Linked DNA regions of Homo sapiens. The protein of the gene in region 2 purifies or fractionates together with the protein of the main gene of each other region. This does not show direct contact. Each region holds a gene or a part of one and is shown on either strand. Other genes may lie near its edges. The genes, in order: APAF1, RPEL1 and DUSP29.

Region 1 (3,652 bases), on a different chromosome or scaffold from region 2:
TTTTTGCTTCAGCTAATATATTATTGTAGTTTCTATCATTGTGACCAGAAAGTCCTAATAGTAGTATACATAAGAAAATCAAAGGAGATACTCTGATGTACGAATCAAATTTATCTACCTAATTCTCAATATCCACACTTACTTTGAGGAAGCAGTCACTTGACCCAGTGGCTAAGAGAAGATGATGACTACTGTTGGTGAAATGGCAGCAATTGACTTGCTCTGAGTGCTCATCATAGGTGTGTACTAGTTCCCCAGTCATAGAATTCCAAATCTAAAGAGAAAAGAGAAAAAATTTACAAATATCCATTATTTTCAAAGGGAGAACAGAGGGGCAAAGCAATGTCCATTGCTTTGCAAATGCTATCTTATCCTGTCATAGCAGATTTTCCTAGTTGGACAAGATGCTAATGAAACCTCTCCCCTTTCTAAAATATGGCAATATTTTGCCTTAATGTTTAAAAAAAATTATTTGCAAATATACATATATGTACCTATAGCATAACTAGAGTGTCATGAACACATGACATTTCTTAAGGGCAAGATTTCACATGTTTATATGAATGAAAGCAGGCAGAGAAGTGCTTTAAAGAGGTTAGCATAATAGATTTCTGGTCAGAAGGGTTGAGCCCAAGAGCTGGCTCTACCACTTATGACTTGTGTGTCACAAATCCCTAACTTACCTGCATCTCAGTTCCCTCTTCTGTAAAATGGGGATATCTATACCTCTCCCACACAATTTAAGATATCAAATGAGATAATGAACATGACAAGTGTTCTATGGACTTCAAGGTACCATATAAATAAGTAAAGGCAGATTGCTTAGTTAAAAAAAATAAAGGTTTTATAGTCTGAGAGAAACCCAGCTTTCAACCCTATTACTGTTCCCAGTTTAATGTAAGCTTGAGCAAGAGACTTCATCTCTGAATCTGCGTCCTCTTCTGTAAACGGGATCGACACTTAACCCTGCAAGCTGTAGCAGGAAATTGATAATGTAATATGACAAAGTGTGTAGTATTTATAGCCTCTTATAGTGTTCAGTTTTCAGTAAAAAGTAATCATCAGGCCGGGCGCGGTGGCTCACGCCTGTAATCCCAGCACTTTGGGAGGCCGAGGCGGGCAGATCACGAGGTCAGGAGATCAACACCATCCTGGCTAACATGGTGAAACCCCGTCTCTACTAAAAATACAAAAAATTAGCCAGGCGCGGTGGCGGCCGCCTGTAGTCCCAGCTACTCGGGAGGCTGAGGCAGGAGAATGGCATGAACCCGGGAGTCGGAGCTTGCAGTGAGCCGAGATAGCGCCACTGCAGTTCAACCTGGGCGAAAGAGCGAGACTCCGTCTCAAAAAAAAAAAAAAAAAAACAAAAAAATTAATCATCATTCTAGTTACTATGTAAGACAACTAAGCAGTCTATGCCATATAACAACAAACAAAAGAAATAAATTACCTAATGAACCTTCACTGGGATTTTGACTTTTTAGAGGTACTAATGTCCTTTGGCATTTCCTTTGTATGTTATCAAAGCACTGATTAGAATCCCCAGAGGTCCAGAGAGTTTATCTTATTTTAAAGTTCTTTAATAGGTATTTCTACCTCTGGCTTAGAAAACAGAAACTCATTATTATTTCCTTTTACTCCATGTAGCTCTGACTTTAGAACTGCCCTCAGTGGCCACCTCCAAGTCTGACTCAGAGTCAGAGTAGACACTACAGAGTGAATTAACTGTTGGTTAAGCCACGAGTCCAATCTATCAAGAGGTAGATTTTTCCAAGGTCTCAAATTTAGTCTGGACATTCCATAGCCCTCTTCCAGTAGGTGAAAACTTCAGGAAAACACCCAAGGCAAATTTCTTGCCCACTCCACCTAGCTACATCCAGTACTCCAGATTTAACCCCTTTGAAAAAGGGTTAAAGTAAGGTCTGTCTTCCATATATCAGTGATAACCCCCACAAGCCTTCAGTTTCTCTTGAATTCTATATTAGTATAAATGCTCCTGGTAGAAGCCAAATTTAGGAACAAGAGAATACTTAACAAAAATAAAAATTACTCTCTGGCGGGGCACAGTGGCTCATGCCTATAATCTCAGCACTTTGGGAGTCAAAGGCAGGCGGATCACTTGAGGCCAGAAGTTCAATACCAGCCTGACCAACATGGCAAAACTCTGTCTCTACCAAAACTACAAAAATTAGCTGGGCATGGTGGTGCACACCTGTGATCTCAGCTACTCAAGAGGCTGAGGCATAAGAATCAATTGAATCCTGGAGGCAGAGATTGCAGTGAGCCGAGATTGTACCACTGCACTCCAGTCTGGGTGTCAGAGCAAGACTCTGCCTCAAAATAAATAAGTAAAAATTACTCTGTTTACTTTTCTCTATTTATGTTTTTAGACCAGTAACGTAATTATTAGTTTGTTCATCCACCTGGTTTTCCACTGAATATATAAGCCAGTTCATAAGCAAATTAAAAAAATTGGGGTTGCATTTTAAAATTGTATCTTACAACAGGAATCCCCAAGTTTGTGCAGCAACACTCCTAATCACAATGCACTCAAAGATTTCAACTGATATTTAACCCATGGACTTGTCTATTAATGGAAGACAAACTCACTAATTTGTCATTGCTTTTCCCCACTGCTTGTTTAATCCTGAGGTGATCAACCTAGGCATTTTTGCTGGTGTTTAAAAATAAAGAATTTTCAGGCCACGCACAGTGGCTCATACCTATAATCCTAACACTTTGGAAGGCTGTGGCAGGAGGATCACTTGAGCCCAGGAATTGGAGTTTACAGTGAGCTATGATCATGCCACTGCCCTCCAGCCTGGGTCACAGAGCAAAATCCTGTCTCTTTAAAAAAAAGTAAAGAATTTTCAGATAGTGTTAATTTACAATGAATCAGGTTAGTAGATCAACAGGTGAGAGTCCTTTAACTCTACTTACTCTGGTCTCATGATCATGGAAAAATAAAATGAATTCTGTTGTGATTACAACTCAAGAGGAAAAGATTTTCCTACCTTCACTTTTTTATCCACTGAGCAGGTTGCTATAAATCTGTCATCTGTAGAGAATGCACAACAAAGCACTTCATCCTCATGAGCCTTGATTTCTAGAAGTTTCTCTCCTGTTTCAGCTTTGAACACCTGCACAAGTAACAATAAAATATTTTTTATAATAAACTGCTTAACTACTGGTCATCATTCAATAAAAATCTTTAAGTGAGTTTAATCATTGTCATTTTGCAAAACAGAAAGGAACCTTGGCAAAGCTACTCCCAAAATCAGAATTTCTGTCAGAATGTGTATGCCTTCACATAACTAGAGAACTATTCACTGTTACATGTTTGTAAATATCAATGAAAATGTTACAGGATCTTTGGGGTGTTGATTTTCTGGCCAGAAACTTCTGTGGCCGGTGGCGCCTTTGCCCAAGTTTTGCTTGGGCCCACTGGTCTTGTTTCACCCACTTGGCCTGACAGGCTGCATTCAGCTCACACTACCAGCCTGGGTCCCAAGCCTGCCAAGGGCGAGTCAGGCGTGGAACAGCGAGGCGTGTGTGAGTGAGCGTGGGGTCCAGCCACTGCGCACAGACGTGCTGACTGCTGCAGCGGGGCAGGCAGCTCCAGGTGCCAGCATGGGCTCTGGCTCTCTGTGAG
Region 2 (4,182 bases):
GCTCAAAGTTCTAAAAACAAATGAGCTGGGTTTTAATACAGGTCAGTCTTAACATTAGAGCTCATGCCTACTCAACATATCATTCCTTTTTTTGTTTGTTTTAGTTTATTTTTTGAGACAAAGTCTCACTCTGTCACCCAGGCTGGAGTGCAGTGGTGTGATCTCAGCTCACTGCAGCCTCGACCTCCCATACTCAAGTGGTCCTCCCACCTCAGCCTCCCGAGTGGCTGGGACCACAGGCACATGCTACCACATCTGGAGAATTTTTGTATTTTTTGTAGAGATGGGGTTTTACATTGTTGCCCAGGCTGGATCATTCTTTCTTAAAACCATGTTCAGAATCAAGTTGAGTAGCCTCCTGTAGAACTATCTGGCATGGGGTAATGGGAAAATGGCAAATACCAGGCTTGTACATCACCACTCACCATTCCTCACTCATGGCAGCCACAACTAATCAAACCTGGCACTTTACCCTCTTAATTCAATAATTAAGAATTCAAAACCTAGGAATTCTTTCTCAAGTCACTGTTTCAGGCAGGTGCTACCAATGGATAGGAGTTGGCATGGGAGACGTAATCAGGCAGGTGGGTTCGAACCTATACTGCACCCTTACTAGCTATATGACCTTGAGCAGGTCAGGCAACCTTCCTGAGACTCAGTTTTTGTCAACTGTAAATTAAGATAGTATCTCATTTGCAGTAGAATTGCCTTAGAATTATCCTGAGGATTTGTTGACAACATATATGTAAAAGTAGCCAGCACTGTACCTGGAAGAGACAAGGCCATGAAAAGTGTATAGCCTTTGAGGAGCCCGTCAATCCCTTCAGCTCGTGCTCTGGAAACTGTTAGGGAACACTTTTTTTTTTTTTTAAATGGGGACAAAAATATCTGCTTTATTATTACCACTTACTTATAGAGGTGATTTACAGATTTAATGAGAATATATCAAAGTACTTTATAACTCACAAAAATATAAACTTATATAATGCTATCTACTTTGTATTGAGCATATTCTAAATTCTGGGACTAGTACTAGAAACTTTACATATATAGTGTTACCTCTTAATTCTCAACACAACCCCACAGTTGTTATAATTACATTTAATGTATAAATGACTTCAGAGAAACACAAAAAAGACTGGGTGATTTGTTAAAGGTCCAGCTAGAAAAGGGCAGTCAGAATTCAACCCAATATTACTTCCATACAGAGGTTTTTACTTTTTCCTTTCTACTCAGAGCTAACACAACAGCATTATTTAACGTCCTTAAGAATGGTGGGGAGGAATCACTGAATAACCTGCTTTGACAAAAACACCCTGATAAAATCTATGCTTGTATTTTAGAACCCCTGGGTTTCACGCATTGTTTTTATAGTTTTTACACATTAAGTGTAAGGTGAAAAGTGATAGATTTTAAGAACCAAGAATATGGTATGCCATCCCACCCAAACTTATAAACAAATCACAAATAACATGAAATAGAAAAAAGCCATAAAGACTTCCTTTGCTTTTGGAAAACAGCTGAGAAACAACAAAATTCTTTTCAGAAGTACAGACAAAATTTGTTTTTGTAGTGTAGCTAATATGCCCTCCTTAGGCATTAAGACACTTTTCTGTTTGTAACCTTAATGCAGCCGTATTTTTACTCTTTATAAAAATCAAGTCTCTCAATAAAAACAGTATCTTACTCACTAATCATTAAATTGCATCACTAAAAATGTAGTTATACACACCAATTTCTGACCTCTTAGAATATTCTGCACAATCAGTTTTAATCACTGGAATGAATAACTGCTCAAAAAAGCAGTACAGCTTCAATTTCATGATGATTTGGTAGTCAATATTCCTGTTTTCCAGTAAAAGGGAGATTTCATGAACAGAAACATTGGGCTCCTTATGGTTTCATCGATCAAGAGAACGTTTCTGAGCAGCTTCTGAGCAAATATTTCTTAATAGGTTGATCACAGATCTGGGGTCTTCACTCCTCATAATAGCACTGCCAGATACAGTCATGTTAGCTCCTGCCTCTGCACACTTATGGACAGTGTCAGAACCTACTCCACCATCGCCCTCTATATCCAAAGATGGGAACTGGGTCCTCAACCAGTGAACCTTTGGCATCATATCTTCCATGAATTTCTGCTCTCCAAACCCCGGTTCCACTGTCATAACCAAGGCCATATCTATTTGATTAGCCCATGGTGCCAAATACTCAACTGAGGTTCCTGGTTTGATGGCAAGGCCAACCTTCATCCCATTCTCCCGAATGTCTTTAATCAAAGTCCCTGGGTTCTCAGTAGCCTCGAGATGAAAGGTGTACTGATTGGCTTCTGCTACAGCCATTGGCTTTACCCACTGTTCTGGCTTGGACACCATCATGTGCATGTCAAAGAAAGGGTCCTGGCCTAGCTGCTTTCGAAGGCTTTCTACCACAGGGTGACCAAAGGTGATGTTGGGAACAAAATGCCCATCCATTACATCCAGATGCAGATAATCGGCCCCAGAGTCTAGCATCTGGAGGCACTTGGCCCCTAAATTGGCCAGGTCGCTGTTGAGGATGGACGGGCCAATCTTGCAGCCCGACGCCATACCGCTGGCTCCCAAGAACAAGTTACCCCACGAGTCCCCGGCAAGACTAGAGCCCACTTTTTTTTTTTTTAAAACCAGGAAATTCTACCAAAGAACCACAGTTTGGCCAGGCACAGTGGCTCATGCCTGTAATCCCAGCACTTCAGGAAACCAATGCAGAAGGATCACTTGAGCCCAGGTGTTTGAGACCAGCCTAGGCAACATAATAGGAACCCGTTTTTACAAAGTAAAAAATTTGCCTGTGTGATGGCACATGCCTGTGGTCCCAGGTACTCGGGAGGCTGAGGCAGGAGAATTGCTTGAGCCGGGGAGGCTGAGACTTCAGTGAGCCATGATTGCGCCACTGCACTCCAGCCTGGGCGACAGAGTGAGGCCCTGTCTCAAACAAGAGACAGAAAACAAACAAAAAAGAAACCCCGAAACATAGTTTGGAGAGAACTATATAATAGCAGTCAAGTACAGGCTGTGAATTCTGTAGGTTTAAAAAAATGGTGAGGGATGGCCAGGTGTGGTGGCTCACGCCTGTAATCCCAGCACTTTGGGAGGCCAAGGCAGGTGGATCAGCTGAGGTCAGGAGTTCGAGATCAGCCTGGCCAACATGGTGAAACCCTGTCTCTACTAAGAATACAAAAATTAGCTGGGCGTGGTGGCACGTGCCTGTAACCTTTGCTACTCGGGAGGGTGAGACAAGAGAATCACTTGAAGCCGCGAGGTGGAGGCTGCAGTGAGCGGAGATAATGCCATTGCACTCAGCCTGGGTGACAGAGCAAGACTCCGTCTCAAACAAACAAACAAAAATGGTGCGGGATACCCTGGGAGGCATGGTTCAGGGATCCCTTCTGGAAGAGTTGGATATGAGAAGGTCTGAAGATTTAGGGTTTGGAAGAGGCACCAGTTGGAAGGTGGAACAGCATAAGCAAAAGCAGTAAGAGAAAGTTGAGAGCACAGAGAGGAGACTGACTCTTCCATCGTCAAGGGACTGGCCTGGGGAGTGTCTTCAGCGGGGAAGGAAAAATACCCTCCCTGGCCGGGTACTTTGGGTTTTCCTCACATTCTCGGCCAGCTCCTGATCTTACCCAACCAACCCCAGGAGCACCCCAAGCAGCAAAGACTCTGCACGTTTCATGACTACCACCAGGAGGCAGTATGGCCCAACAACTTGGAGCATCAGGGTTCATTCAGTTCCTAGTTTGTTCCAAGAGCTGATCTAGGAGCATGAAAGTGTCCACCAATCTAATATTTGTGGAGCACTTTGCATGGAGTTTTCAAAGTACTTTAACCCCGGTGATCTGATAGAATACTAACTACAACCCTGTGTGGTCTCTATGTGTTGGTATTATCTACCTAGAGGAACCGATGTTGAGGATTTAAGTGAATTATTCAAGTTCATTTAGACTGTGCGGGAATCTGAATTTGAACCAAGGGCCAAAATCTCTACCTCGTGCCCTCTACTACAACTTACTGCCTTTTGTTAAGGAGACAGGAGCATACAAATATTTAGCATAATAATAAAAGCTTATATTAATAACTATTAAGAACCAATGGCAGTTTCAGTTTGATAAGATGAAAAAATTCTGGAGATGGATGGTGGTGA
Region 3 (3,652 bases), about 28 Mb from region 2:
GACTCTGTCTTTAAAAAAAAAAGAAAAGAAAAAAGAAAGAAAGAAAAAGAAAAATCAATCTGGCTGATGTGTGGGGATCCTGGATGCTAGGATCTGTGTTTGGGAGTCAAAGAGAGCTCTAGAGAGTGTTTAAAGAGAAGTGATACAATCTGGGTTTAAGAAGACACTTCCCTCAATAGCATGAAGACCAGGACTTCAGCTCAGGGAAGATGTGACAAGGGTCTGGAGCCGTACCAGTAAGAGGGTAAAAGTGGCATTGCACTCCAGCTGAGGGCTCATCTCAAGGCCACTGGTAAAAGCATGTGGACAGAAGTGACCATGTTAGATGCTAGCAGGGACCAACACCCTGAGCCAGGAGGAAGCCTCACACCAGAAATATATGCCATGGCCCCTCGGCCAAGGGTGCGCTTGTCTTTCATTGGTTTCCTGGAGCTTTTTATTTGGCATGAGAACCATGATGGTGTCCAGTGTTTGGGAAGGGAATTGAGCATTTGGAAACATTTGCAGACAGCCCATCAGAACTGTGGCATGGGGAGGTGGGGAGTCCCACTGAGCCCCCCTCCACTTGGCTCTTAGTGTGGCCATTCTGACTGTGGGACACATTGTGCTTTCCATTTTTCCTTAGAAAGGTCTGCTTTTCATTTTTCGTCTTGCCCCAAAGTATGTGTACAACAAACATTATGCTTTGGGGACGTAGATCTGCGCCCAATTAAAGCCGCCGCTAATGCAGTCCATCTTGCTGAGTAGCAATCAACCTCACTTTGAGGTTGAGCTCAGTGGAAAAATTAAAATTAACTCTTCTTGACAGGAAGCTCCTACCCACCATGAAGACTGTTCTCTCTGGGTTCAGTAACTGGCTTTCAACATAATCAAGTGGCAGTTTGAATGAATAACAGTTTGCACTTTGCCACTTTTGGGGAGCGGGATAGATATGCAACAAGACTCATTGCCTGACACCTCCATATCCACCACACCAGGCTGACGTTGGTTGTGCCTGAGGCAGAGAAAGGGGCTCGTGAGGACCCTGAGACCCGGTGGGTATTTGAGGCCCACCACAAGTTTTCAGGGTCTTGGCTCCCTGGACGGGAAGGGGAGTTGGTATCCTCACACATCACTCTGGGGACTTCCCCCAGCTTCATTCACTCAGAGTTCAGTTGAGGGCTTGAAAGAGCATCCACAGCAGAATGGGAATCTGCAAATAAATGGAGTGCCTCTTACACAGATGTTGTGGGGGAGGCAGAGCCATCATCACAGACACCCATCGTCCAGTCCCCAGATGGGACAGATGCCCAGCTCAGCAATTATTGGGAGTGGGGCAGGCTCAGAGGGTGGTGTCTGACACTAGATTGCTTTGGTTTTGTTTTTAAATTTCAGGGCCACATACATTATCTGCTCACATATGTTAAAAAGAGACTAAGAAACACAGGGGCATTTTGAGGTGATGGGCATGGAGAAAAGGCCGTGTGCCCCACTCCTGGGTCCACATAAATGCCTCTGCTGAGGGAGAAAAGACTTCAGAAAGAAAAACAGATTTAAGAATGTACTTCCAGAATCTAGATGACACAGGAGCTTTAGTTTCTGGTTAGGCACAATCCTAGATGTGATCAGTCTGTTCAATTTTTAAATAATATGTCGTCTCATGACAAAAATAACACATGCTCAATGTAGAATGTAGAAAACATACTCCCCCCTCCAAAAAAATCACCTGTATTTCTACTCCCCTGGAGATAAAGGCTATTGTTAGCTTTTGATGTAAGAACCTCCCATTGTTTCTCTATGCATAGATTTGTATATTTTATAGAAAGGTTTTTTTTTGGTACAATACTATATATATAAAGTTTCAAAACCTTTGACGTGATATATTGTAAACATCTTCCTGTGGCAACATATAAGACTTCAATAACTGCATGCTATTTCATTATATAGGTATGTCCCAATTTTTTCTTACCAAACATTTTGATGTGTTTCTTTGGGCACTCCTCTGTTTATGTCCGTAGGAGACATTTTTAAAGGTGAAATTGCTGGGTCAACAGATATGGCCATTTTAAAATACATTTGATACTTGTTACTAAATTACCCTACAGAAAACTTGCTAAAATTGCTAAAAATTGCAGTCCGTATTCTTTGTCAATTTCATAGACAAAAAAAATTAATGGTGTCTTGTTTTCACTGATTCATTTTAGCAGTGATGGACATTGTTTACACATTTGTTGGACTCATGCAGTTTACTTTTTTTTTTTGTAACCTTTTTTTTACTCTTCCCAGTTCACTGGAATCATGTAGTTTACTTTTTTTTTCTTTTTTTTTTTTGAGACAGAGTCTCGCTCTGTCGCCCAGGCTGGAGTGCAGTGGCGCAATCTCGGCTCACTGCTCACTGCAACCTCCACCTCCCAGGTTCAAGCAATTCTCCTGCCTCAGCCTCCCGAGTAGCTGAGATTACACGTGTGTGCCACCATGCGTGGCTAATTTTTGTATTTTTAGTAGAGACAGGGTTTCACCATGTTGGCCAGGCTGGTCTCAAATTCCTGACTTCAGGTAATCCACCTGCCTCCACCTCCCAAACCCAGTGGAGTCTTAACCGTGCAGTCTTGAGTGTGCCCGTTCCTTGCAAGTGGACTTTAAAACAGTGGGCACATTTCTGGCATCTGATCTCGGTTAGTTCACCTGATGGGAAAGTGAAATGAACCGGCCTTCCGGTGTCTTGGGTGTTCTTGTTACTTGAGGGTGAAGCTCCTCCGTGTTGAGGCACCTGAGAAAACATAGGGCTGACAGCTGAAACTGACGCATGAACTGAGGTGGCAGAACTGCTGGGAGCCTCCGTTTTCTTTGTTTGCTAAATAGTACCGATTACACTGGCAGTACTTTCCTTGTGAGAGTCTTGTGAAGTTGAATGATGCAATACTGAAGCTTCTTTGAGAGGTTAAAAGATGACTCCAAGGGGAAAAGGCAGTGGAAAGATTTATGTCAGAATGTGCTTATCCCATGACAAAATGTGGTAATGGGATTATATGTAGTTTAAATTTTCTTGTTTTTGTCTTTCTACATTTTGTACATTTTCAGTAATGAACGAGTCATATATTCATTTACTATGTAAATATAGCATGATTTGTATTGTTATTTCCTTAGTTTTCAGGAGAGACCATTGTAAAGGCATAAGGTGGCCTCGGGGTTTTTAACTTCTACTGGAAATCTCCTGTCTGCCCCACTCTCCCAAACTCTATTCCTCCAAGGATGGAGGTGAAGAGAAGAGAGTACCCAGGAGGTCTGGTTTTGAGAAATGATGTCGTGTGAGTGATTGGACTCGGCATTTGCCTAACCATGCAAGGAGATGGTTTATGTTGCTTGAGGCCTTGACTGCTAAGCCGTGTTCTGGCAATGAGAAGGCCAGGCCAGGCCAGGGCCTCAGGCTTCTCTCCCCGACCGTCTTGCCTGTGACTGCTGCCCAGCTATGCCTCAGTTGCCTTCAGTAGTTGGAAGTCCTAGTTATTTCAGGTAACGCCCAGCATGTTAAATTCGCAACCTTGACTGTTTTTTGCTGCATCCTAAACTGGCCACACCACCCACACCTCGAAGAAGCAGGTTAATTTCATTCGTGCTCGGTGCCTTAAGGCGGAATTAGTTCCTCCTTTTCGGGGAGAAGGAGCTGTCTCAG

What was found.
Region 1: the proteins of RPEL1 (region 2) and APAF1 purify together in Homo sapiens (affinity purification with mass spectrometry; one large-scale study listed by BioGRID and IntAct). This does not show direct contact.
Region 3: the proteins of RPEL1 (region 2) and DUSP29 purify together in Homo sapiens (affinity purification with mass spectrometry; one large-scale study listed by BioGRID and IntAct). This does not show direct contact.

What each region holds. Positions count from the first base shown.
Region 1 is NC_000012.12:98,679,765-98,683,416, reverse strand, and holds part of APAF1 (apoptotic protease-activating factor 1), read right to left. Parts: intron 3,141-3,652; coding exon 3,015-3,140; intron 275-3,014; coding exon 143-274; intron 1-142. UniProt on the Homo sapiens protein: Oligomeric Apaf-1 mediates the cytochrome c-dependent autocatalytic activation of pro-caspase-9 (Apaf-3), leading to the activation of caspase-3 and apoptosis. This activation requires ATP. Isoform 6 is less effective in inducing apoptosis.
Region 2 is NC_000010.11:103,244,403-103,248,584, reverse strand, and holds RPEL1 (ribulose-phosphate 3-epimerase-like protein 1), read right to left. Parts: upstream 2,699-4,182; 5' UTR 2,589-2,698; coding exon 1,902-2,588; 3' UTR 569-1,901; downstream 1-568. UniProt on the Homo sapiens protein: Catalyzes the reversible epimerization of D-ribulose 5-phosphate to D-xylulose 5-phosphate.
Region 3 is NC_000010.11:75,046,101-75,049,752, forward strand, and holds part of DUSP29 (dual specificity phosphatase 29), read right to left. Parts: intron 1-3,652. UniProt on the Homo sapiens protein: Dual specificity phosphatase able to dephosphorylate phosphotyrosine, phosphoserine and phosphothreonine residues within the same substrate, with a preference for phosphotyrosine as a substrate. Involved in the modulation of intracellular signaling cascades.